4 linked regions of the Homo sapiens genome follow. The protein of the gene in region 2 purifies or fractionates together with the protein of the main gene of each other region. This does not show direct contact. Each region holds a gene or a part of one and is shown on either strand. Other genes may lie near its edges. The genes, in order: SLC9A1, SLCO6A1, TTYH3 and LAPTM4B.

Evidence for each region.
Region 1: the proteins of SLCO6A1 (region 2) and SLC9A1 purify together in Homo sapiens (affinity purification with mass spectrometry; 2 studies listed by BioGRID and IntAct, with this or other methods). This does not show direct contact.
Region 3: the proteins of SLCO6A1 (region 2) and TTYH3 purify together in Homo sapiens (affinity purification with mass spectrometry; 2 studies listed by BioGRID and IntAct, with this or other methods). This does not show direct contact.
Region 4: the proteins of SLCO6A1 (region 2) and LAPTM4B purify together in Homo sapiens (affinity purification with mass spectrometry; 2 studies listed by BioGRID and IntAct, with this or other methods). This does not show direct contact.

The regions. Positions count from the first base shown.
Region 1 is NC_000001.11:27,098,303-27,103,147, forward strand, and holds the end of SLC9A1 (sodium/hydrogen exchanger 1), read right to left. Parts: intron 4,442-4,845; coding exon 4,371-4,441; intron 4,257-4,370; coding exon 4,083-4,256; intron 3,829-4,082; coding exon 3,714-3,828; intron 3,525-3,713; coding exon 3,423-3,524; intron 2,974-3,422; coding exon 2,901-2,973; intron 2,343-2,900; coding exon 2,005-2,342; 3' UTR 507-2,004; downstream 1-506. UniProt on the Homo sapiens protein: Electroneutral Na(+) /H(+) antiporter that extrudes Na(+) in exchange for external protons driven by the inward sodium ion chemical gradient, protecting cells from acidification that occurs from metabolism.
Region 2 is NC_000005.10:102,495,984-102,503,999, reverse strand, and holds the start of SLCO6A1 (solute carrier organic anion transporter family member 6A1), read left to right. Parts: upstream 1-4,998; 5' UTR 4,999-5,155; coding exon 5,156-5,513; intron 5,514-8,016.
Region 3 is NC_000007.14:2,655,982-2,663,009, reverse strand, and holds part of TTYH3 (protein tweety homolog 3), read right to left. Parts: intron 6,919-7,028; coding exon 6,826-6,918; intron 6,613-6,825; coding exon 6,476-6,612; intron 4,725-6,475; coding exon 4,551-4,724; intron 4,071-4,550; coding exon 3,995-4,070; intron 1,343-3,994; coding exon 1,271-1,342; 3' UTR 1-1,270. UniProt on the Homo sapiens protein: Calcium-independent, swelling-dependent volume-regulated anion channel (VRAC-swell) which plays a pivotal role in the process of regulatory volume decrease (RVD) in the brain through the efflux of anions like chloride and organic osmolytes like glutamate.
Region 4 is NC_000008.11:97,799,777-97,806,804, reverse strand, and holds part of LAPTM4B (lysosomal-associated transmembrane protein 4B), read right to left. Parts: intron 1,453-7,028; coding exon 1,341-1,452; intron 1-1,340. UniProt on the Homo sapiens protein: Required for optimal lysosomal function. Blocks EGF-stimulated EGFR intraluminal sorting and degradation.

The sequences.
Region 1 (4,845 bases), on a different chromosome or scaffold from region 2:
CCACTGCCCTTTTGGTCTTCCCACGGTTAAGAGCAAAATCTTAACCATGGAGCACGCGGCCCCATCCTTGCCTCCCCTGTCACTCTGACCCAGCCACCCGGCCTTTTCTCAGGTCCCAGTGTTCGTGGGCACAGCTCCCAGTTACAATGTTTGGGAACTTTCTGGGTCCTTTTCCACCCGGAAGCCTTGGCTCCTTCTTCAGTCCCCTCCTGGGATCTCACTCACTCGGGACTCAGGAGGGTCCTCCTCGCCGTCCCTCCCTCCCCTCTGCCTCTTTTTCACCTCTTGCACAAACACTGGGCACTGGTTAGTGCCGCTCTCCCCCGCGGGGCAGGGCACGTCCTGCTTAGCTCATTGTGGTATCTCAGTGCCTGGCATGTGGGAACAACCACCCCAGCAGCTGACAGCCATGAAGTGTTTCTGTGCCAGCCTTTGAACTAAGTACTTCACGCCCTCAGGCCACCCTCCCTCCTAAAGACCCTCGTCCCCAGAAAGCAGCCCTTGACTCTATTAAAAACTCACATTGATTTATTAGAATATGAAAAAGATTCAGTTTCTTCTGTACAGGCAGCAGAGTGGCAGCAGCTGCGGTGGCTTGGTACGTGGTTGTCGATGTCACCCTTGCATGGTGACTCCTGCCCAAACAGCACTTGCATGGAGAGGAGGATGGACAGATGGGCCGAGGACCCATGGCCCAGTCCCCTGCAAAAAGGGACACTCTGACTATTGCACAATCCTGGGGGAGTGCCCCAGGGACAAGGGGAAGGAGTGTGTGTGGGCAAAGGTCTCTGGGGGCCCAGGATTCTGCCCAATCCACCAGCCCCAGGGGACAGGGGATCCTCAGGGGAGGCCTTCTCCCCCCCACCGCCTCCACAATGGGCTCCACAGCAGGCAGGGTGTGGTACACACAAGGGAAAGGTTCCAGGGGCCAAACCCAGGGTGGGGGAAGTAAGAGCAGGCCAGCAGGACTGGAGGTCAGGCCCAAGAGCTAGGCAGGTGCCAAGAGGCCAGCATCTGTGAGGCTGGAGAGACTCTTGATTAGGAGTGGGAGTTACTTCTGATGTCACAGTCTTCGAGCAACAGTTAAGAGCCCAGCAGGCAGAGAGACGTGGGGGAGGGGTTGGACAGACAGGCACAGATGAGGAAGGGTAATTCTGGAGTGTGAGGAGGGAGTTAGAGGCAGAGCACTGTTCAGCCAGGGGTTTTCAAAATGTTTTAAAAACAGGAGCGCCCTCTGTGCAAACAATCATATATAGGAGTGTGAACAAACAAAACTTAAAAAGGCAGCACATTCTGGAGCCACGGCCAGTCCTTCCCCTAGCAGCTTCCCCTGAGGGGCCCAGTGGTCCCCGTGGGAGCACAGTTCGAAAAGCTCTGAGTCACGTCACTGTCACCGTAGAAACCACCCCTGCTCCAGGCAGAGACACTCAGAGATGCCCTCAGCCCGCAGCTCTGAGTAAGGACAGGTTGGGTGGTGGCCAGGGTGACAGAGCTGGCAGGAGGAGTGTGAGACCTTGGTGGGTCAGCAGTCCCTCCCCCAGCCATGTGCCTGGTACCCCTGGTTTGTCCCCTGATAAAGCAGGGCCTACTCAAGGGAGGCCTCAGCTCCCTCCCTTCCTGGGTGGGACCACAGCTGAGCCAGAGACTCTTTGGTTAGAAACTAAGATTGGTCTGAATGAGGAGGAGGATGAGGCAGAGGGAGGAGCCTCCGAGGCCCTAGTCCAGGTCCGGGAGAAGCCTGGATCTAGGGAGGGGCAGGGCCGGCCTCACCAGCCCCAGCAGTTCTGCCAAATGGATTGGGGAGGCAGCTCTGGTGGGGAGGATGCTTCCCGGGAGGCGGCAGGGGAGGAGCTGTGCTGGGGTGGGGGCTGTGGGCCCAGCTGCCATGCGGTAGGGGGAGGGGCAGGGCCAATCCGGGTCAGGAAGGGCAAGGGGAGCCCCCAGCAGCCCCTGCTCTGGTGGAAGAGTCTGTGAGGGGACAGGCGCTGCCTGCTGGCCCTGGTGTTACTGCCCCTTGGGGAAGAACGGTTCTCCCTCCCCAGGCTCAGGGTGTGGGCCTGGGTCACTGAGGCAGCGCTGTATCCTCTGGGAGCTGGGGCTGTCACTGGGCGCGGGGGTGAAGACATCGTCGGTTCCTGGGGACGAAGTCTCCTTGCTCCGCATCATGATGCCCCCATCGTCGTCCTCGTCCTCCTCAGCCACCTTTGCAGGATCCCGGCTCAACCCTAAGACTTTGCCCTTCAGCTCTTCATTCACCAGGTCCACAGACTCGGGTGACTGCGGGGAAGCCGGGTCGATGGTGATGACAGGCAGGTCCTCCTTCGGCTCATAGGCCAGTGGGTCTGGGGACCAAGAGCAAGGCACAAGCTGGGTTCCGCTCTGGAGCCCGGCCCAGCACGTGCCACTCGGCCGCGTCAGTGCCTCCTTCAGGCCTTCTCATGAGCACAGCCGTCCCGGTCCCAACAGGCCTCAGAAGCAGGCCTCTGCGACCTTCCACCCCACAGCTTCTCTTCCTCAGACTGTGGCCCTCTCCTTTGACAGGGGCTCCCAGAGGTGTCCCTCCACAGGCCAAGGCCTGGGGCTCCTCCCTGAGTCAGTCTGCCCTGGGGCCCTGCCCTCACGTTCCCCACACGTGTTGGGGGTCTCGATGGGGCAGATACCCTGCCTTCCTGCCAGGCACCGTGGCTCTCCCAGCTCCCCACACAGTCCTCGCCCGGAACGTCTCTCTCCCTAGGGATGGCCCCTGACGTAGAAGCAGCTCATGGCTTGGGAGGGGATCCTGAGGTCAGCGAGGGCCAGGCCTGTCCTCCCAGTGGCTGAGGACTGTTCCTGTGGAGCCCCATCCTCAGGAGGTGGCAGCTCAGAGTGCCCAGTCCTGAGGCCCCTCGCCAGGCCCTTACCTGAGCCGATGCGGGCCCGAGACATGGTGGGTGAGTCCAGCTTGTGGGCTGGCACCGTCAGGTAGTTGTTGATCTGACAGAGAGGACAGACGGGGTGAGCACAGGCAGCTGGGCAGAGGGAGCCCCTCAGGACAGAACCCGGCCAGTGCACACCCCACCTTTCGTATATGCAGGGCGCTTGCTCCCCCTCCCTTGTGCCTGTGTGGGCACCCGTACTGGCCCCTCAGGAGCTCCTAAGGGCTCATCCCAGGCTCCTGTCACAGCCTCCCTGAATACACCTACACTGCTCAGCCTTAAATCCACCCATTCCTCTGTCCCCTGCCACTGCCCTAACCCAGGCCATGCCCCACAACCCCACGCCAATCCCTTGCTTAGAACTCATGGCTCTCCATGCCCTTACACTGCTAAAAGCCCCTCGAAAGCCAAACCCTGTTCCTAGAATGGGTACATTTCCTTAGAGGCTGTGGCGGAGCTTGGGCGAGTGGGGTGGGATACAGATTCCCAGAGGAAGGCAGAGGCTACCTTCTGCTCCAGCTGCCGGGCCTTCTGCCTCCGGAGCAGCATCTGGTTCCAGGCTTCCTCGTAGGGGTCTGCCACCAGCGTGTGTCTGTTGTAGGACCGCAGCTGTGGGAGGGACAGCGTCAGGGCAGTGCGGGCCCCGGAAGGCTCTGCTCATGGAGGGGTGGGGGCAGTGCTGGAGGCCGGGCCAGTCCTGGGGTGGGTGCCGAGGGGCACGGGCAGGGCAGGGCTGCCGTAGAGAGGGGCTGAAGGGCTCCTGTACCCTGGGGGTCGGGCTGGGGAGCAGGCCCTCACCCGCTGCCTGGTCTTCTGCAAGTTGTTCCTCAGGATTTTGCGGATCTCCTCCTCCTTGTCCTTGGACAGTGCTGGCAGGATGCGCTCGGAAGGCAGGGACTTGGGGTGGATGTTCCTGGGGCAATAGGGCATCGGTTAGGTCCCCAAGATTCTTGGGATCCTGGTGCCTCCCAGGTTTGGCCAGAAGGAAGTCACCCTAGGGATGACCCAGGTGGGCGCCAAAGCCTCAGGTCCTTGGTGCGAGCCCACAGCTCTCTTGTCCGCCCCAACAGGACAACAGAAGACCCCGCCCCCCAGGTGGCCACCTCCAACCGGGCTTGAGGGGCCGGTGTGTGGGAGCAGAAGCTGCCTGGTTGCCCCAGCACTCACTGCATGGAGACGGTGGAGACGGCAGAGGGGATCTTGCCCATGCCCCCGCTCTCCACCAGCTCGATGGCCTGCTTCATCTCCATCTTGTGGTAGAAGGCAATGAGCTGGGGCTCCTTGGAGCGCTCGCCAGCTATCAGACACTTCTTCACATATTTCTTATTAAACCGGTTGAGCCTGGTGGGAGGAGGAGGGAGACGGATGGCGCCAGCTTCCAGGAGTGGGGAGATGCCCAGGCCCAGGAGACCCTTGCCTGCCCCTCCCTGCCTGCCCACCAGGCCTGCCACCTACTTGTCCTTCCAGTGGTGGTGACCGTAGTGGCCACAGATGTCTTCGATGCCTGTCAGAAGGTGGTCCAGGAACTGAAAGGGGCCCAGGGCCAAGTCAAGCCTCGCTGTGGGGCGCCTTCCCTACCAAGACCTCTGACTAGCCCCACTCCCTCCCGTAGCTGCAGCCCTGCTGGGTCCAGCCCTGTGGTTCCATGAGCAGCCAGGAGGTGGCGCCCACACTCCACTCATCGAACCCAGCGGCCCTGACTCTGGGTATCTCGAAGCCTTGCCTGTGTCCGGCTGAGCCCCCTTCTCTAATCCCACCTGGGACCTATGCCTGGGATAGGTTTCAAATGGAGGCAGAGATGGCATGATGCCCCCTCCTCAGGCTCCCAGCTGCTCACACCACACCTTCCTATGGCTAGACCCTGGCGGCCTCCTGGGGCAGAGGGAGCCCCTGGGCACTGGCACAGGGAGAAGGGGCTGATGGGGGGCAG
Region 2 (8,016 bases):
CCTTAGAAAATGGGATTTTCTTTTCTATCACATTGTCAGGCTGCAAATTTTCCAAACTTTTATGCTCTGTTTCCCTTTTAAAACTGAATGCCTTTAACAGCACCCAAGTCACCTCTTGAATGCTTTGCTGCTTAGAAATTTCTTCTGCCAGATACTCTAAATCATCTCTCTTAAGTTCAAAGTTCCACAAACCTCTAGGGCAGGGGCAAAATGTCACTACTCTCTTTGCTAAAACATAACAAGAGTCACCTTTGCTCTAGTCCCCAACAAGTTCTTCATCTCCATCTGAGAGCACCTCAGCCTGGATTTCATTGTCCATATCATTATCAGAATTTTTGTCAAAGCCATTCAACAAGTCTCTAGGGAGTTCCAAACTTTCCCATGTTTTCCTGTCTTCTTCTGAGCCCTCCAAACTGTTCCAACCTCTGCCTGTTACCCAGTTCCAAAGTTGCTTCCACATTTTCGGATACCTTTTCACCAGCGCCCCACTCTACTGGTACCAATTTACTGTATTAGTTTGTTTTCACACTGGTGATAAAGACATACTGAGACTGGGTAATTTACAAAAGAAAGAGGTTTAATGGACTTACAGTTCCACATGGCTGGGGAGGCCTCATAATCATGGCAGAATGTGAAAGGCACTTCTTACGGGGTGGTGGCAAGAGAGAATGAGAGAAGCAAAAGCAGAACCCTTATAAAACCATTAGATCTTGTGAGACTTATTCACTACTATGAGAACAGTAAGGGGGAAACTGCCTCACCAGGTCCCTCCCATGACACATGAGAATTCAAGATGAGATTTGGGTGGGGACACAGCCAAACCATATCATGTTTATTTCAATGTTTACACATTTCTTAATTGTAAGATTCCAGGCCTCCCAGTTTCTTCTGACTGTCTCTGTTTCCATAAGGTCTCAGGTAGGGAACCATTTCTGGGGATCTAAATATTATTCCACTTTTGATTCTAGCTCTCTCCCCATCAGGGTAATTTGTTGTCCCTGAAGCTACTTCATGAAGCTTTACAACTTATTGTCACAGCACTTGATTTTCTTCCTAAGTGTCTTAAACATTACCTCTAATGGGCCAGGTTTGGTGGCTCACACCTCTAATCCCAGCACTTTGGGAGACCAAGGCAGGCGGATCACAAGTTCAGGAGATTGAGACCATCCTGGCTAACATTATGAAACCCTGTCTCTACTAAAAATACAAAACAAAAACAAAAACAAAAACAAAAAACAAGTCAGGTGTGGTGGCACGCACCTGTAGTCCCAGCTACTCAGGAGGCTGAGGCAAGAGAATCACTTGAACCCAGGAGACAGAGGTTCCAGTGAGCCGAGATTGGGCCATTGCACCCCAGCCTTGGTGACAGAGTGTGACTCTATCTCAAAAAAAAAGAAAGGAAAAGAAAAATACCTCTAATGTACCTCACAACAAACATCAACTTAGTCTGCTATGCCTCCTGCAAACATTATTACTTATCTGAATTCTACCAGTTCATTACAGATAATCTGAAATGTTGCCATCTCTTTACAGCCTTTTGTGAAAACATTTGCTGATAGGTTTTCCCCCTCAATTGGTAAATCTCTACTCACCAATGAGGGTCTGACTTGTAGGGAGGTATATATAACAGTAGTTACTTTTTAATATGGTGGCTCATTATTCTAATAATTTGAAACATAATTATCTTTGTTTAAGCATATGCCAAAAATGAGCTAGATACTTTTAATATATTGCTTCTAATCTTCACAGTAATTTTTCAAATGGGATAATTATTATCCTCATTTTACAAATGAAGAATTAAGGGTCAGAATGTTTAAAAGACTTACCCCAAATCACATATCAACTAAGCAAAGTCTATACTTTATTCATTACATATAATGCTTCTTTCTTTCATGTCCCCACCCGTTTCCTCCAGTTGCCTTTGTTTTCTTCTGGACTTAAAAAATTATGTAGCATTTTACTTATCTAGCAGTTAGACTTCTAATCTCAGTAAACTGAAAAGATTCACAGAAAGCAAAAAGTAAAATAAAAAGTCTGTAGTTATCAAGAAAAATAGTACTTATAGCACCCAGATATCTAACATTAGTTTCAACATAGGACCTGTAAATCTTATATTGTGAAGGAAAGATGTAACAAGCGTCACTGCAATATTATAGGTGGTAGCATATTAGAAATTGTAGCAAAATGTCACTACTGTCTATCAGGGAGGAAGTAAAAATCATTTACCAGGAAAGCAAAGCAAATGAGAAACCATTTACTAAAAGAGAAAACAGTTCTATATCTCTTAATAGTTGAGGTCATCTTATATTAAGCTACATTATTATAATTTGCACCATCATGCGGTTTATCTACTTCATAGGCTCATTTGCTAAAAGGATTATATGAATTATCATCAATATGTTACTTTAGTGAGTAGTTCTTCCTACATGTTTAGAGCATTTAGCGGAAATAGATATTACATAGAGAATATAAAAGAGCACCTCATAAACATTCATTGTTTAATTTAAGCTGGTTTCTTGAATATCTTAAGCACTTGGATTGCTGAACTCATCAGGGAATGCTTTAGTTGGTAGCTATATTTCATTGCCTGTATCGAAATTTTATACTATAATTACTTGCTAACTTTTAGGAAACATGTAATTAATATGCATACATTTTAAGATTCAAAGATAATTTTTTTCACATTTAATATTTCTGGAATTGAGATAGTTTTATAACTCTGATCGACATCATCTATAAAAAGATTTTTAAAATCAGTGATCTGTCTCAGGAAAATACATACAACCATGTTAATTTCAGTATGGTCAGAGCAAAAATTGAAAAACAATCCAATACCCATCAATATAAAAGAAAGTGGTTAAATAAATTATAGTAAATCCATACCATGAAATTCTATCATGCATGGTACTATCATAAAGGTAGCCAAAATGAATTAAGTGTGATGTTTTCTAAGGTTAAATGAGCAAGGTAAACAAATATCCACAATTTCTACTTAAATACTTAGAGTACAATTTTTGTAGCTGGATGACAGTGTCCTACATTATGTAATAAAAATATGCTGATCAAAGAATGTTGAAGGTATGTTTGTCAGTGTTTCCATTCCACCCTTAGCTTTCAGCAGGTCCTGTATGCTTGCACCACAGGTAGGGTTTCCCTCTGCTCTCTTGACTCACCTATATTGGTGGAGTGCTGTTTTTTCACTCATGCAAAACTCCTCATCGAGGCAGAAGCTAGGTTGTCCCTGGTCCAGCCTCAATTTTGGACATGCCCTGAATGCCTGAACCTCAAGTTCGGGCTTTGCCTTGTTTCAGTGGGGTTCTTGGGAAGAAATGAAGTTCCTGCTCCTCTCTTTTTGGCAAACTGTTTTATTTCTATCCCTCTCTCTGGTGGCAGTCAATCTTAAGGTAGGCCATAGACAGGATGGTTTGCTGCTCCTCCTTCAGTGGGTTTTTTCTTCTGTAACAGATAACCTTTGTCACAGACTGGAGGGCATGAGAGTTTCCTGCCTCAATCCCAGAGGCAAAACTGCTTTTGCTTTGGATAGCAGAAGGGTCAGTGGAGGTAGGAGGGAAAGTATTCCTTCTTCTTTCTCAGGGACAGTCTACCACGACCAAATCTTTTCCCTTAAACAAAGATCTGGTAAACGGGTATAGACTCCCCTTATTTCTTAGGCTTCTAGGGTTTCTAAACTGTTAAGCTTCCCTTGGCCTTTAAGAATTCATTAAAATTTCAAGTGTTTCTATCTTCCTTTATGACTGCTTTTTCTTCTTTCTGTGCTCTTTGAAAAGTAAAATGGTTTGTGTGTCCCATCCTTTTTCTGAAGGGCTTATTGTCCTTTAGAATCAATTTGCCTAGTTTCTTTACAGCAGCCATAGCTATAGAAATGTAGCTCTCTGATAAAAAAAGTATTTTTTCATACTATCCAGCTTTGTTGTTGTTGTTATTATTGGAGTGGGGGTTACATTTTATTTGGCTTTCTACATTCTGGGTAGAAGTAAAATTCCCAGTACCATTCATTTTTAATGGAGTTGTCTTTTCCGCTCTGCACCCAAGCAGTACCTATTCTGGTTTTGAAGCACAAGAATAAGAGCCCACCACTCCCCACTGTCTTTCCTACCTCCTAGGATTCCTGTGGATTTTTTTTTTTTTTTACATTTATTATCATGAAGCAGTGTAGAGTCGAAATCAGGCTTCAGGTCAGTGGTTCTTAATTCTTCTTTCCCTGGTCTACCAGGCCAGCACTATTGGAGCAGCACAAAATCTTGTTGAAGAGCTAAATTGTTTTTGGCAACACAATGTCTAATCCATAGGAGAGAAGATAGTGCCATCTCTCCTGGAAAGTCACCCTCCACATATACATGGCCTAAAGAGCTTATATATCAGCCTAAGAAAAGAAAACCAATAAGAAGTTGCATTTTCATTAAAAAAAGAAAGCCACGTTTCATATCCTACTACTCTTCGCTTACATTCTTTCTCTTCAATAAAGTTTTTATACCTGAAAAAATAATCCTCTGGTTCTCGTGCCCTCATTTAAGGTGGAAAATGATAATCTTTTCTGTTCTTGAGTTGGGATAGAGTTTGTAGGGCAATAATTTCTATGTGTAAAACACTTCACTTAAGGACATTCAGTCGGACATTGATTTCTGATTTTTGTGCGTCCAAATCTTTTACTGTGGTGAAACTGTTTTTGTTGTTGTTGTTGTTGTTGTTGTTTTAATGTCTTCTGCTCTCTCCTGGTCCTTCAACAATTTTCAGGTTGTTTCTAGTGAGATTTTTCAGTTGGAAAGCCACCATAATAAAGTAAGTCTGGGGAAACTGGGGACGGACAGTTCCACTTTTTTTTTTTTTCCATGCTTCTGGTGCTCTTTGTCTGTGTTAGCAGTTATCAAAATCTAGTTTTAGCTTTTTTTTTTCCTTCCGCACGTGGAAGAAAAGAAGGAAAACAGCTTTGGAAGTTCTCAACCGTCAACCCCCGGGAGGACGTTTGCCTCCTGCCCTAGGAGAAACGTTCGCTCTGGAGGCTTGGGCGGCAAGAGCCCCTTGTGGCCACCGAGTCCTCCGACGCCCTCGCCAGGCTGGCCTTTGGGTTGGCCCAGGCAGGACGGGCAGCCGAGAGCACTCGGGCCGCGTCGCCAGGAGCCGCCCAGGGTGAGCCATGTTCGTAGGCGTCGCCCGGCACTCTGGGAGCCAGGATGAAGTCTCAAGGGGAGTAGAGCCGCTGGAGGCCGCGCGGGCCCAGCCTGCTAAGGACAGGAGGGCCAAGGGAACCCCGAAGTCCTCGAAGCCCGGGAAAAAACACCGGTATCTGAGACTACTTCCAGAGGCCTTGATAAGGTTCGGCGGTTTCCGAAAAAGGAAAAAAGCCAAGTCCTCAGTTTCCAAGAAGCCGGGAGAAGTGGATGACAGTTTGGAGCAGCCCTGTGGTTTGGGCTGCTTAGTCAGCACCTGCTGTGAGTGTTGCAATAACATTCGCTGCTTCATGATTTTCTACTGCATCCTGCTCATATGTCAAGGTGAGCCTGAAGGAGGCGGTTTGTTGTGGCGAGGGCAGCTGGGGCCGCACTGGCGGAGGCGGGAGAGGGAGTATGGCGGAGGACGCCCTGGGGTGGCCCAGCATGCCCTGGGGTGGCCCAGCCTGAGGCTGCTTTCTGACTTCTCAAGGCGTTGTCGGATCAAAGTTTAGCCACCCAGTGGGTTTACCTTGCCCGCTGCCTAGACAGAGAAGATTTATCAAGGAAGGGGAATTGCCATGGAGAAAGAGTAAGGCACGCAGAGCCGGCTGTGCGGGAGACCAGAGTTTTTTTATTGCTCAAATCAGTCTCTCCAGCATTCTGGGATGGGATCAGAGTTTTTAAAGATAATTTGGCTGGCAGGGGCTCGGGAACTGGGGAGTGCTGATTGGTCAGGTTGGTCAGGGAATCATAGTGTGGTTGAAGTCAGGTTTTCTTGCCATCTTCTGTTCCTGGGTGGGATGGCAGAACTAGTTGACCCAGATTACTTGTCTGGGTGGTGTCAGCTCAACCATCCAGTGAAGGGTCTGCAAAATATCTCAAGCACCGAGCTTCGGTTTTACAATAATGATGTTTTCCCCAGGAGCAATTTGCGGAGGTTCAGACTCTTGGCGCCAGAGGCTGCATGACCCCTAACCTTAATTTCTAATCTTGTAGATAATTTGTTAGTCCTGCAAAGGCAGATTAGTCCCCAGGCAACAAGGGGATCTTTTCAGAAAAGAGCTATTATCAATTTTGTTTCAGAGTCAAACTGTGAAATGAATTCCTTCCCAAAGTTAGTTCGGCCTAAGCCCAGGAATGAACAAGGAGTTTAAAGGTTAGAAGCAAGAAGGAGTGGATTAGGTCCAATCTGTTTCACTGTCATAATTTCCTCATTTATAATTTTTGCAAAGGTAGTTTCAAAAACAGGTTAACCGGCTGGCACGAACTTGGGTGCCTCACCTCCTCCAGAACCTGACTGGCACAGTCCATCCTACACATTGTGGGTGATGAGGGCCTGGCTTCCAGATAGCCAGCTGCAGAGAGGATATTGTTGAGTCATTTATCGTTGTTTGGTCACCAACTCTGAGAAGTTCTGGGTTGAATCACCTGGAGTTTAAAATAAAGTTGAAAACGGTGTCTATGATCATTAAATGGTTTCTGATCCTGCTCACAAATTTGCGACATTCTGGCTCAGCCACTCTCTATTGGATCTTTTTTCCTCATCTATGAATTTATACAAGAGAATCTAAACTTGAGGTTGTTATTTTTGCCCACATATTTTGAAGAAGGTGAATTTGAACACTTTAGACCTGGCATGCCTCTCTACTTGACCACAGCTCTCACCTCCCCTATTACATCAAGATTCTTTACTAGCCTCTTTTCAATGATGGCATTGGAATTTGACAAACCTGTTCTCTTTTTTGCTCTAAGATGCTAGGTCTAAATAAGTGCAATCAAAAGGCTGTATGTTGTAAGACCCATACTAGAAAAACTAATAAATTGTCATCGAGTTTGTCTTGAGATTATCAAAGAAGTTTCTTAGAAGAACAAGCATTTGAACTATGCCTTTATAGTAGGTACAGTTTTGAAAGCCAGAATGAAATTAAAGAGTATTTGTTGAATAGGGAAGCGAGTTAATGAATCGTGTTTTGTTTTAGAAAGGCTTGTTTCACAATAGTGAATGACAAGTTTGGCTGGATAATGGTTTCATCTAGGCACCATAAGGGGGTAATTATATTTATATTATCCATCATGTCTCCTTAGTGACTGAGGTATAGAAGACACTCAGTAAATATGTATTCGATGCATGAATGAATTTTAAAAGAAAGGAAAAGACAGATTATGCCTAGATTATGAAGGCCTTTAAATACCAGACATAATTCTGAAAGGATATAAAAGGTACTTACTTCCCACTATGTTGGGTCATGAGTAAGGTGCTTTGCAAGTATTATCTAGTTTAGTGTAATCCCCTTATTAGGTGGGTAATGAGGAGCCATTGAAGGTTTCTGAACAAGTGATGGACAGTATATGGTTTTTAGCTCTGTATCTTAACTGACTTCATACAGGTAGTTAGCTCAGTTTGGGTATAATATTGAGTCTTCCATTCATAAAAATGGTATCTCTCTTCATTTTTCTATTTGTCAATTGATCTATTTATTATTTTTACATTGTAAACAATTTTAAAATCATTTCAAACATAAAGAAGGGATACAAAGGCAGTACAAACAATACCTGCTTCCTGTGAGTCAACCAGATTCTTCATCTGTTAACATTTTACCACATTTGTTCCTTCGCCTTCTCTTTCCCTATACATGCCCAGTTTTTCAGACATGGTGCACCACTACTGCTAACTACTCCAGTGTGCAACTTCCCAAAGTGAGACACTCTCTTACATAACCATCGTTCCTCACAGGCAGGAATATCAGTACAATACTATCATCCAATTATGAACTGGTGGTCCCATCCAGATGTTGCCAGCTGTCTCAATATTGTCTCCTTTTCATTTTGGGGCCAAAATTCTATA
Region 3 (7,028 bases), on a different chromosome or scaffold from region 2:
GGGGAGGAGACCGAGGCCACAGGGACCTCAGTCCAAAGCCCGCGGGAGGTTCATTCCCGAGGACAGTCCTCCTGGGGCAGCACCTGCCTGGGGAGGGGTGTCCAGGCCCTTGGGCTGCCTGTCGGTCTGTGGCACCCCCTGGAGCACCCCATGAAGAAACGCTACTGCAGCCTTGACTCCCAGACAGCTGCTCCGGCCTCGGCTCCAGCCCGGACTTGGGCTCACACTGCCGGCTCTGGGCCAGCTAGGGGCACCCGTGGAGTTTGGGGGTGAGGTTAGTGGTTAGTCCCAAGGGGGGACAGCAGGGGCTGAGGGATGTTCACAGCCGGCTCGGGTCCAGCCCCTCAGGCCGGGCTCCTGGGATGCTGTACCTGTCATGGATGGAAATGGAACCAAGAAGGGAGGGAAGGGGGGTGCCAGCGGTCCCCCTCAGCCCGCAGCCCCAGCCTGCCCTAGAGATGACAAATGTGGTTAGTGCAAAGAACGAACCAGACACAGCTGCCCAGTCTCTGGGTGGGGGAAGGGGGTTTGGCACCAAGAAGGCGGCCAGCACTGGGTGGCGGGTGAGCGGCCCGGGCTCCACGTGGCCCCTGCTGTCCACGGAGGGCTGGGGCCTCCAGCAGGGCAGGTGCTGAGGGAGAGAGTGAAGCTGGGGCAACGGAGAGAGGCCCTGCTGGAGGGGGCCTCTGGCAGCCGGCAGGAGGGGTGAGCCTGTGGGTGGGCGGGCTGCACAGGCGAGGAGGGCACTGCAGAGAGATGGGCACGTGGAGGGACCACGGGGTGACCTCAGGGCAGAGATGAGCAGGTGGCACGTGTCCCTGTCCCTCAGTGGCCAGCAGGCGCCAGCACAGAGCGGCCCCAGCCGTGCCTGTGAACTAAGAAGGGGTCCACAGAAGTGCCGGGCGGGAGGAAGGAGAGCTGTGGAGGGAAGGGCCGGGCGGCAACAACACAGGTTGGGTGCGGCCAGGGCTTGTAGGTGCGGCGACCATCTGCAGAGGGAGCGTGCCGGGATAGTGGGTGGCGTGCAGGGCTGGGGCATCGGCTGGCAGCAGCGTTCAGGTGTGACCCGAGTTGGCGGTACGGGCCCAGAGCCCCTGCGTCTCCACTGTGCCCCTGCGGGGAGGGGACAGGAGGGCAAGCGGCCTGCAGACGCGTCTGGGGCAGGCCTGGCACGGCGTGCGAGGGTCCGGTGGGTGGCCCAGGTGGAAGCGGCAGTGCTGGCACGGGGAGGGGAAGTTGGCACGTGGGGTGGGTGGCTGCCGGGCGCGGTCTAGTGGCTGCCGCTGGAGTCAGGGCGAGGCTGGCTCGTGGCGAGGTATTTGGCTCTCATGCTGGAGGTGTACTGGAGGGAGACAAGGGGGAGGCATCAGCAGGGCCCCTGCATGGCGCACGCAGCCAGGGGCGCCTTCCGCGTGGTCCTCACTTGGCTGAGCCAACAGCCCTGGGGGCAGAATGGGACAGTACAGGGTGCCCTGACAGAGCCTATAGGGAGGGGCTAAGGAGGGGCCGCTGGCTGGGGGCCCCTGCGCTCTAGGTCTGGCTGAGGCTGAGGGAGGGGCAGCCCCCGAACTCTCCAGGCTCAGGACAGGGGATGTCTCCTCTGAGGAGGGGCGTACACACAGCCTCCCATGCCCACACCAGCGGCATTTGGGCATTGGGCCAGGCAGAGTTCTGCCACCCCCAGGAGCCACAGCTCCAAGGCCCTACCTGCACCTTACGCACCCAGGACCTGAAGGACACAAACCAGCCACCCTCCAGGGCCGGGCCAAGGCCTCCTCCGGGCTCAGGGCCGGGTCCACCTACAGCCAGGCCACAGCATGCAGGAGTACGGAGGCCCCAGCCTGAGGACATCCCCCGGGCTACTCTGCCCCTTCACGCCATGGAAGGAGGGCCCCTTAAGCCACACAGGAGGCTGGAGCAATGCAGCCCCCCCTCCCGTGGGGGACCCAACTGTGGGCTCCTGGGGGTCTTGGACTTAGGAACAGAGGCGGCTGCAGGGGGCGCTGTCCTGTGCCTGGCTCTGCAGCTGGCCTGCACCTCGTGGGTGCCCTCGTCCAGGCAGGAGTGTGAAGGTCTTGAGTGCACGTGTGTGTGCAAGAGAATGCATGTGTGTGCTCACAGAGAAACCCACATGTGCGAGGCATGTGCTGAGGCCAAAGGACCCACAGGCCTGGCACGTGTCAGGGGCCGGCGGCAGTGAGGAGACCTGGCAGGCTGGCTCCCATCCCAGGAGGGCTTCAGAACCCCAGGGCCCCAGGCCCATCCCCATAGTCCCCAGACTCAGAGGCACAGAGCTCCCCGGGTCCCCGAGGGCCCTCCTGGGACACCAAGAAGGTTTCGAGCAGCCTGTGGGGACGCCACGGAGGGGGTGGGGGGAGGAGCCACGGCCCGGAGCCTCGTCATTCCACTGACATGCAGCACAAGGGGAGGGGATGGGGGCGGGACGGGGCGGGACTGGACGGGACGGGGCAGACGCGCAGACCCCTGAAGGAGCCCAAGCAGGCACCCGCACCACCGTGGGGCCAGCGGGAGAAGCTCACGTGCTCGCCGGCACGTGCCTGTCCGTGTGCACGCCCCTGACACGCAGTTGGTGCCTCCAGGGCAGGGCCTGCTGGCCACATGCCCAGGGGCCCGGGCACATACAGGGGTCTGGGTGCATGGATTCCTCACTGGGAGGTGACAGAAGGGGCTGGGGCCACTTGGAGCTGTGGCAGAGTCCCCAGAGGCCAAGCAACTGGGCAGGGGGAGCCTGGAAGGGGACTTGCCAACCCCACTGTGAGGCTGGCGGGCCCAGAGCCGGCATTAGAAGTCTCTGGCTGAGCCGTGGCACTCAGAGCTGGCCCTGCCAACAGGAGCCGGACAGATGGAGCCCCAGCTCAGTGCCGACGGGAGGGCGGCAGTGAGTGCAGGGTGGAGGCGGGAGGCGCAGGCGGGTGGCCGTGCGGGATGGGGGACCGGTGGGTCAGTACCTGTCGCTCTGAGGGAACAGCTACCACAGCGTTCGGGCACTGTCCATGGGCTTAAACTGCCAGCCCGCGTGGCTGCCAGAGTCCAGGGCAGCCAGATAGCGCTAGGAGGGCCCGGGGTGGGTGGGGTGCAAGAGAGAGAGAGAGAGAGAGTGTGGCCTCAACGCCAGGGTGTGGGGCCAGGAGTGGGCTGTGGGCCGTGTGATGGCGAGGACGAGGGCAGCCGAGCGGGACTGGGCCTGCACCTGTGTGGCCTGAACCTCACAGGCCCGGCCCCTCCCAGGCCCCCCAGGCCCAGCTCTGTGCTACAGGGGACCATGACAGTGGCCCCGGGATGGGGATTTCTGAGCAAGGCAGCCTTCGGCCTCCCAAGCCCTGTCCTGGTAGCCCGGCCGCCCCCTCCCCGGTCCCCCAGCTTCGCCACCAACTCCTTCTCTTCGGCACCCTGTCCCCTCCTGCCTGTGTCTTACGCGGGAAGTCAAAGGGGACACCAGGCCTGGGCTGAAACAGCCATGTGTGGACACTCAGGAAAAGACTCAAGGAAGAAAAAGAAAAGGAGGCAGGGCCGGGGCCCCTGGGAACTGGAGCGGTGGCACCCCACAGGTCCAGAAGGCACAGAGAATGGCAGGTAAGAGGCCAGGGAGGGCCTGGTGCAGGGCCGTGCCTACAAGCTGGGAGGGCCACAGTGGGGCCACATCTGCCCGCCCACCCACTCTCCTTCCCCAGGAAAGGGCCTGAGAGCTGACCCCCTGGGCGGCTGGTCCCGAGGCTGCCCACTCTGGCCCCAGGACACTCCAAGGCCAGCGGGGAGGAGCTGGCAGTCCCACCCAGCCCCGTCAACTCAGGTCAGGCGTCCTGCAGAGAGGTCCCAGCTGGGAAGGGTCACCTGGGACCCCGGTGGTGGCAGCTCACAGCTGCCCCCAGAGCTCACACTGGCTGCACATGCCACACCAGCCCACCGACGCAGTGGAACAGCGGACCCCCAAGGCTGAGCAGCCCCCCATCCACCCTCCTGCCCCAAGACTTACTGAGGGCGGCGGGGACTCGCGCCCAATGAGTGGGGTGTTCTCACAGCGGGGGTTCTGGAAATTAGCGTTCTGGCTCCTGAGGCATGAGGGGAGAGAGGCTGTGAGTGCCTGCTGGCCATGCAGTCCCAGCTGCAGGTCGGGGGGCCCATGGGTAGGCCCGCTGTGCCCAGATGGGCACATCCATTCTCACTGGGGGTCCCACGAACCCAGCACAGTAACAAAGGGCTCAGAGAGGGCCCACAGAGAGACCCCTGCCCACCTTGGCCCAGCCAGAGTCCACTCCCTCCGAGCCACCTGTTCACCATGTAGCTGGGCCCTGAGGTCCTTGGCCACAGAGTCCTTGTGCCCTGGACACGGAACCTCCATGTGACCATGTGGCCTCTCCATGGCCCCTGGACCGTGTTCACCTGGGGCAGGAGGCACTCAAGGCCAGGGCTGCCCAGCCCGGAGGCCGCCCCTTCTCCAGCCCCTTGCCTCGAGCTAGCCCCAGCCCAGATCCGCGCTCTCAGCCGCAGCTGACGTGTCCGCTGGCCCCACTAGGCCCACGTCAACTCACATGTACTCAGTGACCGGGGCGTTGCTGACGGTGTGGGCCGCGGCCGGGATGCTGGTCTCACTGCCGTAGCTGCTGCCACAGCTGTACAGGCTGGGCATGTGGACGCGGTAGAGGCTGTCGTGCGCCTGCCGCGGCCCTGGAGCGGCCTCCTCCTCCCCGTCCTCATCAGGGCCTCTGTGAGGAGGGACACGCAGCACGGGCTCAGGCCCCAGCAGGAAGGAGCTGGCCACAGACCCATGGGGGTCAGTTCTGGTGCAGACAGACACTCCTGGTTCCAGTTCTGGCTCGGCCGTGTGCACACTCCATGTGGGACTGTGGGCAGGTCACCTGGCTCTGCATCCAGCCCTGCCCTTGCGAGGTGGGGTGCTATGAGACCTGTGTGGTCACCCGAGTGCCAGGCCCTGTACTGCGGCCTGTGCATGGCAAGGCTGGCTGGCTGCTTACTGAAAGAAGAGTGCAGGGCCCCTCCTGGGAGAGTGCAGGAGGCCAGGGTGCCTCTTGAAGGCACAGGAGGCTGGGGTGCCTCTTGGCTCTGCAGGATCCAACTGCACCCTTGGGTGGCCTGAGCCAGTTTTCCTAGCCCTGCTGCCCTCTGGCTTTCTGTCTTCCACTCTGCGCGAGCCTCTGGCACTTTGGAGCCTCCACGCCCCAGGAGGTCCCACATGGGACACAGGGTGGGCTGCCTGGCAGCAAGCACTTCAGAAACAGGACAGTGGTAGCTTTTGGCTGCGCAGGGGCCACCAGCCAAGCCCCTCACGTGCAGTGGCTCAAGTGCCCACTCGACACTCCAGCTGTGTCCTCTTACAATGAGGGAAATTGAGGCCCAGGGTGGTTAAGTGACTTGCCCACATCATACAATAAGCAAGGATAGAGACAGAATCTGAATCTAGCCCTGTGGGTCCAGGGCTATGCTCTTATCTACTCCCCTATGTCTACCATCTTTGTTACCACTGACACCATCACCACCACCATCACCGACATCACCAATGCCATCACCATCACCAACATCAACAATGACATCACCATCACCATCACCATCACCACCACCACAACCACCACCACCATCATCACCATCATCACCATCACCACCACCATCACCATCATCACCACCATCACCATCACCATCATTACCACCATCACCATCACCATCATCGTTGGCAGCATCACCATCACCATCACAAAGGAAAATAATAGAAATCCAGACAAAAGGAAGAAATCTGAGCTGAGCTACCTGCCATCCATATTGGGCCACCAAGCAGCAGCCACAGTCCAAGTGGGAGAGGAGGTGAAGGTCTCAAAGATAAGCCATAGGAGCTCTGGCAAGGGAAGGAGCCTGTCACCCCAATACACCACTCAAACCAGTACTGAATGGGAAGACTCAGGCAGGGGCCACCAGGACCCCCACTTCAAAGGTAAGGACATAGTGGCTCCAGGGGAGCTGGCTTCTATCCTGGTCACTTAGCTGGAGGCCACAGCTACCTGGACTACCCCTGGCAGAGCTAAGCCTGCACAGTGGACCACCAACCTTTCCCCCACAGCGTCGTGCACCTGCACCCCATGGTGGGGGACACCTGCCTGGGAGGCGGTACAGAGTAGACAGTCTGAGGCCAGCTCTCAGGGCATAGGGCACAGAGCCAGTCTGGGGAGGCAAGAGACCCCAGTCCTCCCCACTGTCTGCTCTGGACTCCTGCAACCCAGGCCGGGAGCTCCTCCAGGCTGTTTTCCTCCTGTGAAATGATGATGCTCACCTGGGAACCGGCAGCCTCAGAGACACTAGAGAGGCCTAGGGAGGGTCACGAGGTGAGGAGGTGTCTGTCCCTCACCTCTGGGACTGGCACATGGGTGTCCATAAAGGCATGCCCCTGAAGTGTCCCGCATGCCATGTGGCCTGGGGCAAGCTCCTGCGACCCCCCAGGGCCCCTCACCTCTTTTGCTGCCAGGTGTGCGGGACGCTGCAGACGATGGAGCTGAACATGAGGGCTGTGACGAAGGAGAAGAGGGCCAGGTAGATGAGGCCCTCCACGCCGTCATAGCAGAAGCCGGTCAGCGCTTGCACGTAGTCCTGAGGCCGTGGGATGAGATGGCAGGATCCAGAGACAGGGAGGGTGGAGGGGGCAGCGTGAGACCTTCAGCCCAGCCACGGCGGCCTGGACCGCCCCCCAGAGGCAGGGCTGAGGACCCACTGTCTGCTGAGGGTCCCCATCCTCCCGAACAGCTGCTCCCCTGTTCCCACCCTACAAGCTGCCATGGCCCTGTCCCAGGCCCTGCCTCTCACCAGATGCAGGCTGCGGCAGTCCACCAGGGCGGTGAGGTGCTGCAGGTTCACCTCCGTGCCATTCAGCACCTCCTGGACGCGGAGGAGGGGGTCCTGGGGGGCACGCACCGCAGATGGTCAGCACTTCATTTGGACGGGGGACCTCGAGCCAGCCTCGCCCCATCTGGGAAGCCCCCAGGTCTCCCTCCAGCCCATAATCTTCG
Region 4 (7,028 bases), on a different chromosome or scaffold from region 2:
TTCTATTTTTAGTAGAGATGAGGTATTGTCACCTTGGCCAGGCTGGTCTCGAACTCCTGGCCTCAGCTGATCTGCCAGCCTCGGCCTCAATCTCATGAGACTTACTCACTATCACAAGAATAGCAAGGGAAAGAGCAGCTCCCACAATTCAATTACCTCCCCCTGGGTCCCTCCCACAATACAGGGGAATTCTAGGAGATACAATTCGAGATTTGGGTGGGGACACAGCCAAACCATATCAATTCCAAACAACTGTGCTCAGCTAGTTACTGAAATTAAAGTCTATTTTTCTCCCCCAGGTCTGTTCCCACCTCCTGACTCCGGACTTTCTCAGCTCAGTTAAGATGCAGGTCATCTCCTAAAACTGGAAAGCAGAAGTCATCTTTGATTCCTCCGTCTCCTTCGCTGCCCAAAACAGCAAGTTGCCAAATCCTTCCCTGTTCTCTATCCCCAGTGCAGCCTAGGTGGTATCCCCAATACCACTCTCCCAGGCTCTGTGCTCACACACCCAGTACCCTACTCAGCAGCAAAAGGGATCTTAAATGCATATATCAGTTCATGCATTTAGTTAAAACCACTGAACAGCTTTTTCTTACTTGGAGAAACAAAGAGCCCTCACCATGTCTTTCGAATGCTTCCGATCTCTAAAACTGCATGTTGAGCCACTCTCTCCTCTCTTACTTTGCTCCAACACTTTTTAAGAAAAACTCACTTGAAGTTCTCCGAAGCCAATGAGAAATAAATCTGTACTATCTTCTGCTGGAGATTATGCACAGCACTACTCCTCTCCTTTGGCATGGACTCGGCATAATGATTATAAAATGATGAGGCTGCAGTGATCTTCAAGCTGGGAGCCTAGCTTCCTCCCTGCTTACCCCACATCCACATCCCTGTACATATTTCCATTCACTGGGAAAAGGCCCTAAATTCCCCCAAATAATCTGCAACATCATTTCTAGAATGGAAAAGGATCACTCCTAGAATAAAAATAAATACTGAAACATAATAGAAGACACAAGGAGATAAGCACAAGCCTTTTCACCTTCCTTCCTGGCATTTATACCCCTTCCTCTCAAAAAAGGCCAAAAGGCCCAGGGTAGAAAGTCTATGATAATGCAATCATTTTTAAGTGGGTAAGTTAACATAAGATGAAAATAGATCTTATTTAGACTCTTGCACCTAGAAGACAGAATGTTAGACGCACACAAATATTCGTTGATTTGCAATGACAAGTTATATATCAGCTCAAATGAACTCACGAGTCTATATTTGTAATTTAATAGGAAGTGCTGGCAGTCAGATTCCCTGCCCTTGAAAATACCCAAATATCTACTACTTACTGGCATCATCCATGAACTCAAAGTCACCTCCCAGTTCAGAACTTGAAAAGTTATACTGATCCGGATCAGCCAGGGCACTCAATAAAATCAACAGTACCACAGCATTGATGATCTGCAACAAGAAAAAAAAAAAAAAAAAAGAATTTAAGTAACCCCAGGATGCAATCCTTATAATAGAAAATTACACTGACCACATGGAGTCAGGCTGGCCACAGGCAACTTCTTCAGTGGCTTGACTCTCAACACTAAGCCCCACCCATGGAGGGAGCAGATAAACATTCCCAAGGCAGAAATGCTGCCAGCCCATTCAGTTGCAGCCAAGTGCACAAGGCTTGGAGTGAAGACAACAGCAGGATTTTACCTCATTCCCCCTGGCCCAGGCACCATAGAGCAGTGAACAACACACACAAACACAGGCATCAGCCCTGGCGCCAGTGGTTGAAAAAGCACAAAAACTTTCCAGTGAGTCAGCTACACTCTAGAGCTAAAGGTAAGCAACCCAAGTTGTCTCAGTTAATCAAACATTTTACAGGTTCAAACTAGTGGAGCTTTGAGAGCTTTGAAGCCATCTAGGAAGCAGTTTCAGAGAATGAATGCAAAGCTACATAGTGGATCCAGGATCATCCTTCTGCAATAACCCTTTCCAGGCCAGGCCAGGCCAGGCCAGGCCAGTAGTCCTGTCTTCTGAGTACTGCCCTTGGCTACTTTAAACTCAGCTCCTCTAAATGACAATCACCTTCTTTAACATCTCCCACTTCTGCCCTCCTTATTTGTTCTCTAATTTAAAAAATGGCCTCGCTATTAATAATTAATGAAAAACATTCAGGCACTATGCTAAGTGCTTTATGTGGAATCTCTCTTAAGCCCTGCAATAACCTAACGAAGTGGGTACTAAATTATTCCCATGTTATACATAGCAAACTGAGGCTCAGAGGTTAAAAAACACTGCCCAGGAACAAACAACTACCAAGCTGTAGAGATGGGATTTGAATCCAGGAATTTAGGTTCCAAAACCTAACCTCTACAAGTCTCCTGTCCATATACGAAACTTGATCATCTGAGTTTACCATCTTTATCCTGCACACTCAACCAACTGCAAAATCCTGATCATTCTACCTCTTCATTTCTATTTCCTTTATTCTTCCTGTCACTGCTGGACAATACACACACATATTAACTTTGATGGGGCTGGGGTAGCAAGGATTGCAGAGTTTAAGTGAGGCACCAGCTAAGACTGGGTTGTTGTCTGCTGAGAGACAAGGTGTCTATATTGCCCAGGCTGGCCTCAAACTCCTGGGCTCAAGCAATCCTCCCACCTCTGCCTTCCAAGTAGCTGGGCCTACAGGTGCGCATCACTGGGCCAGGCCAAGACTGGCTTGTTACTTCTTTACTATTCTAAGTTCAGAAACTTATGGCACAGTTCTATGTTTTACTCTTCTCAAATGGAGTGAAGATACACAGAGAAAAGCCTCTTACTAACAACACTAACTAATGGCATATCCTACCACAAAAATCATATTTGGGTTGAACACAGTGGCTCATGTCTGTAATCCCAGCACTTTGGGAGGCTGAGGTGGGAAGATCAGTTGAGCCCAGGAGTTCAAGACAAGCCTGGGCAACACAGTGAGACCCCATCTCAACAAACAAGAAAATGAGCCAGGCACAGTGGTGCATGCCTGTAGTCCCAGCTACTCAGGAGGCTGAGGTGGGAGGATCGCCTGAGCCCAGGAGTTTGAGGCTACAGTGAGCTGATGCGCCACTGCACTCCAACCTGAGCAACATAGTAAGACCTTCCCTCAAAACCAAATAAACAAAAATCCACATACTTGGAAATACCTGTTTAAAGGAAGTGTAAATGTTTTACAGAACATCCATTCAAGAGTTTATTTTTGGCCCGGCACGGTGGCTCACACCTGTAATCCCACCACTTTGGGAAGCCAAGGTGGGTGGATTACTTGAGATTAGGAGTTCGAGACCAGCCTGGCCAACATGGTGAAACCCTATTTCTTAAAATGCAAATTAGTTGGGCATGGTGGTGGATGCCTGTAATCCCAGCTATTCAGGAGGCTGAGGCAGGAGAATCACTTCAACCAGGGAGGCAGAGGTTCCAGTGAGCTGAGATCGTGCCACTGCCCTCCAGCCTGGGTGAAAGAGTGAGACCCTGTCTCAGGGGAAGAAAAAAAAAAGTTCATTTTTAAATGACAATCCCAATTGGTTATTTCAGGATTATTGTAGGATTCGAAGTAACTTTTTTTCTTTTTTTTTTGAGACGGAGTCTCACTCTGTCACCCAGGCTGGAGTGTAGTGGCACGATCTCGGCTCACTACAACCTCCACCTGCCAGGTTCAAGCGATTCTCCTGCCTCAGCCTCTCGAGTAGCTGGGGTTACAAGTGCCTGCCACCACACCCGGCTAATTTTTGTATTTTTAGTAGAGATGGGGTTTCACCGTCTTGGTCAGGCTGGTCTTGAACTCCTGATCTCGTGATCCACCCGCCTCGGCCTCCCAAAGTGCTAGGATTATAGGCGTGAGGCACCGTGCCTGGCCGGAATAACTTTTTTTCTTCCTGTATTTTCCAAATTGTCAAATAAAAGCTGATTGCTTTTCGAAAAAAATTGTAATAATGAGAAGAGCCACTTCCCAGAGTATACATATACATATAACTAATTTAAACAGATACTACAAGCATGTGTTTAACCAAACACCTGAACTGTACAAAGAATATATAGTGAAAAGTTACCTTCTCCGTCAAAGGCATCTGAACCAAAGCGACTCCATTATGAACAGGGGCTTGGTAAAATGTGGCTAAGACCCACTGGGCTGCACTTCCAGGAGGTTAGGCCTTCTAAGTCACAGGATGAGATAGGAGGTCGGTGCAAGGTACAGGTCGCAAAGACCATGCCGATAAAACAGGTGATGGTAAAGACGCCGGCCAAAACCCATCAAAACCAAGATGGTGACAAAAGTGAGCTCTGGCTGTCCTTATTTCTCATTATGCACTAGTTATAATACATTAGCATGCATGCTAAAAGACACTCCCACCAGCGCCATGACAATTTACAAATGCCATGGCAACGTCAGGTAGTTACCCTATATGGCCTGAAATGGGGAGGAACTCTCATTTCCGGGAATTGCCCACCCCTTTCCTGGAAAACTCATGAATAATCCACCCCTTGTTTAGCATATAATGAATAAATAATTATAGTATTATCAGTCGAGCAGTCCAAGCTACTGCTCTGCCTATGGAGTAACCATTCTTTTGTTTCTTTACTTAATAAACTTACACTCACTTTACTCTATGGACTCAATCTGAATTATTTCTTGCACGAGGTCCAAGAACCCTCTCTTGGGGTCTGGATCCCCTTTCCAGTGACATCTCCACAGTAATTATTATAACAGTATCTTGTTTCTCTCCAAAGATCCAAGAAATTTCATAGCACATTTTAAACAGTGTGATTAACAAAACTATCTGAAGAAAACTTTCTGTTACAACTCCAAGGCTTAAAGGAGCCACAGGCCAGTCCCACAACTGGCATTAAGATTTATGGCAAAGATGTTATTTGATAAACTGTCAAGTTTTCTTGGCATTTCAATCCCTCTATACTTTTTTTTTTTTTTTTTTGAGATGGAGTTTCGCACTGTCGCCCAGGCTGGAGTGCAGTGGCGCAAGCTCGGCTCACCGCAACCTCCACCACCCAGGTTCAAGTGATTCTCCCGCCTCAGTAGGAGCCTGTAGCTGCGATTACAGACACCTGCCACCACACCTGGCTAATTTTTTGTATTTTTATTAGAGACAGCGTTTCACCATATTAGCCAGGCTGGTCTCAAGTGATCCGCCTGCCTCAGACTCCCAAAGTGCTGGGATTACAGGTGTGAGCCACTGCACCCAACTCTTCTATACTCTTATTTTTGAGAAAAGGTATGTGGAAAATTGTGGACTGAAATAGGATCAAACGAAATAAGAAGAATGTGCTTTGAAAAATTATGAAGAGCTGGGCATGGTGGCCTGTAATCCTAGCACTTTAGGAGGCCGAGGCAGATGGATCACCTGAGGTCAGGAGTTTGAGACCAGTTTGGCCAACGTGGTGAAACCCCATCTCTGCTAAAAATAGAAAAATTAGCTGGACATGTTAGTGTGTGCCTGTAATCCCAGCTGCTCCGGAGGCCAAGGCAGGAGAATCGCTTGAACCCAGTGGGGGGCGGAGATGGCAGTGAGCTGAGATGGCACCATTGCACTCCAGCCTGGGCAACAAGAGCGAAACTCCATCTCAAAAAAAAAAAAAAAAGTATGAAGAACCACACAAGGGCAATGTACTCCATTATTGTTATCATAACAGGGTAGGGTTTTAAAGCTGAAATGAAAAAACATAAATTTGGGATTCATGGGCAAAAAGCTTTAGAGGAGGGAGCAGAGGTAAGGAGCTGGTCAGAGAAGATGGAAAGGTGAGGAAGTCGTACAGTGTGAGTCTGGGGTCCCGTAGGGCTACTTATGGAGTCTTGTTTTGTTTTTTTTAATTAGAGATGGGGTGTGTCACTATGTTGCCCAGACTGGTCTTGAACTCTCAGGCTCAAGTGATCCTCCTGCCCCGGCCTCCCGAAGTCCTGGGATTAAATGCGCGAGCCACCACCTGACTTTGTATTTTATTCTAAGTGTAACAAGAAGTCAACGGGGCTGGGCACAGTGGCTCATGCCTGTAATCCTAGCACTTTGGGAGGCCAAGGCGGGCAGATCACCATAAGTCAGGAGTTTAAGATGAGCCTGACCAACATGAAGAAACCCCGTCTCCACTAAAAATACAAAATTAGCCGGGCATGGTGGTGCATGCCTGTAATCCCAGCTACTCCGGAAGCTGAGGCAGGAGAATTGCTTGAACCCGGGAGGCGGAGGTTACCGTGAGCCGAGATTGCATCGTTGCACTCTAGCCTGGGCAACAAAAGCGAAAACTCCATCTCCAAAAAAAAAAAAAAAAAAAAAAAAAAAGAGGTCAAGGGGTAATATTACAGAAGGGAAGAATGTCATCTGGCCAGAGTTCAAATGAGTGAATATACATAAAATACCTAGACCGGTGACTGGCATACAATAGCCACTCAAATTAGTTATCTTACCTCTTCACATCTTAACAAGAACCATGTTAAAAGCTCTTGGTTACTAGTTTTCTAGATCTTCTAAAGCCAGTGTTAAGACACCTGCTTTACGCCTGTGCTTTCCCCGCACTCTCAGTCCCTAGGGACCTGTCAACTCTTAATCCGCTTATTATTCCCCCGTGGAGTCTACTGATCATATATAGCTACTAATTGCCTACAACACATATTTGCTAAGTGCTTAGGAAGAACTCCCTAGGACTCAGAACATGAAGTTAAATACATCATGTACCCAAAAAACAAAAAGCATAAAGCAATGAATGTGACAAGAGCTCCGAGAAAGAATCATGGAAGTTAAGGAGAGTTACAGTCAGGGGTTGCAGGGACCTGCAACAGAGATGGGAGCATTTGAACAGGAACTCAAAAGATGAAGATTTGGAGCCTGAGAGGTGTGGAAAAGAACAATTCCAAGTATGAGCAATGCCACTGAGACAAGGACATCTCCTCAAGACAGCAAGTTCAATGTGGCTGGAACGCCAGGGTCAGGGGGTATAAAAGGAAATGTTAGAGGATAGAACCAAAAATGTAGGATGGGGCCAGGTGGTGA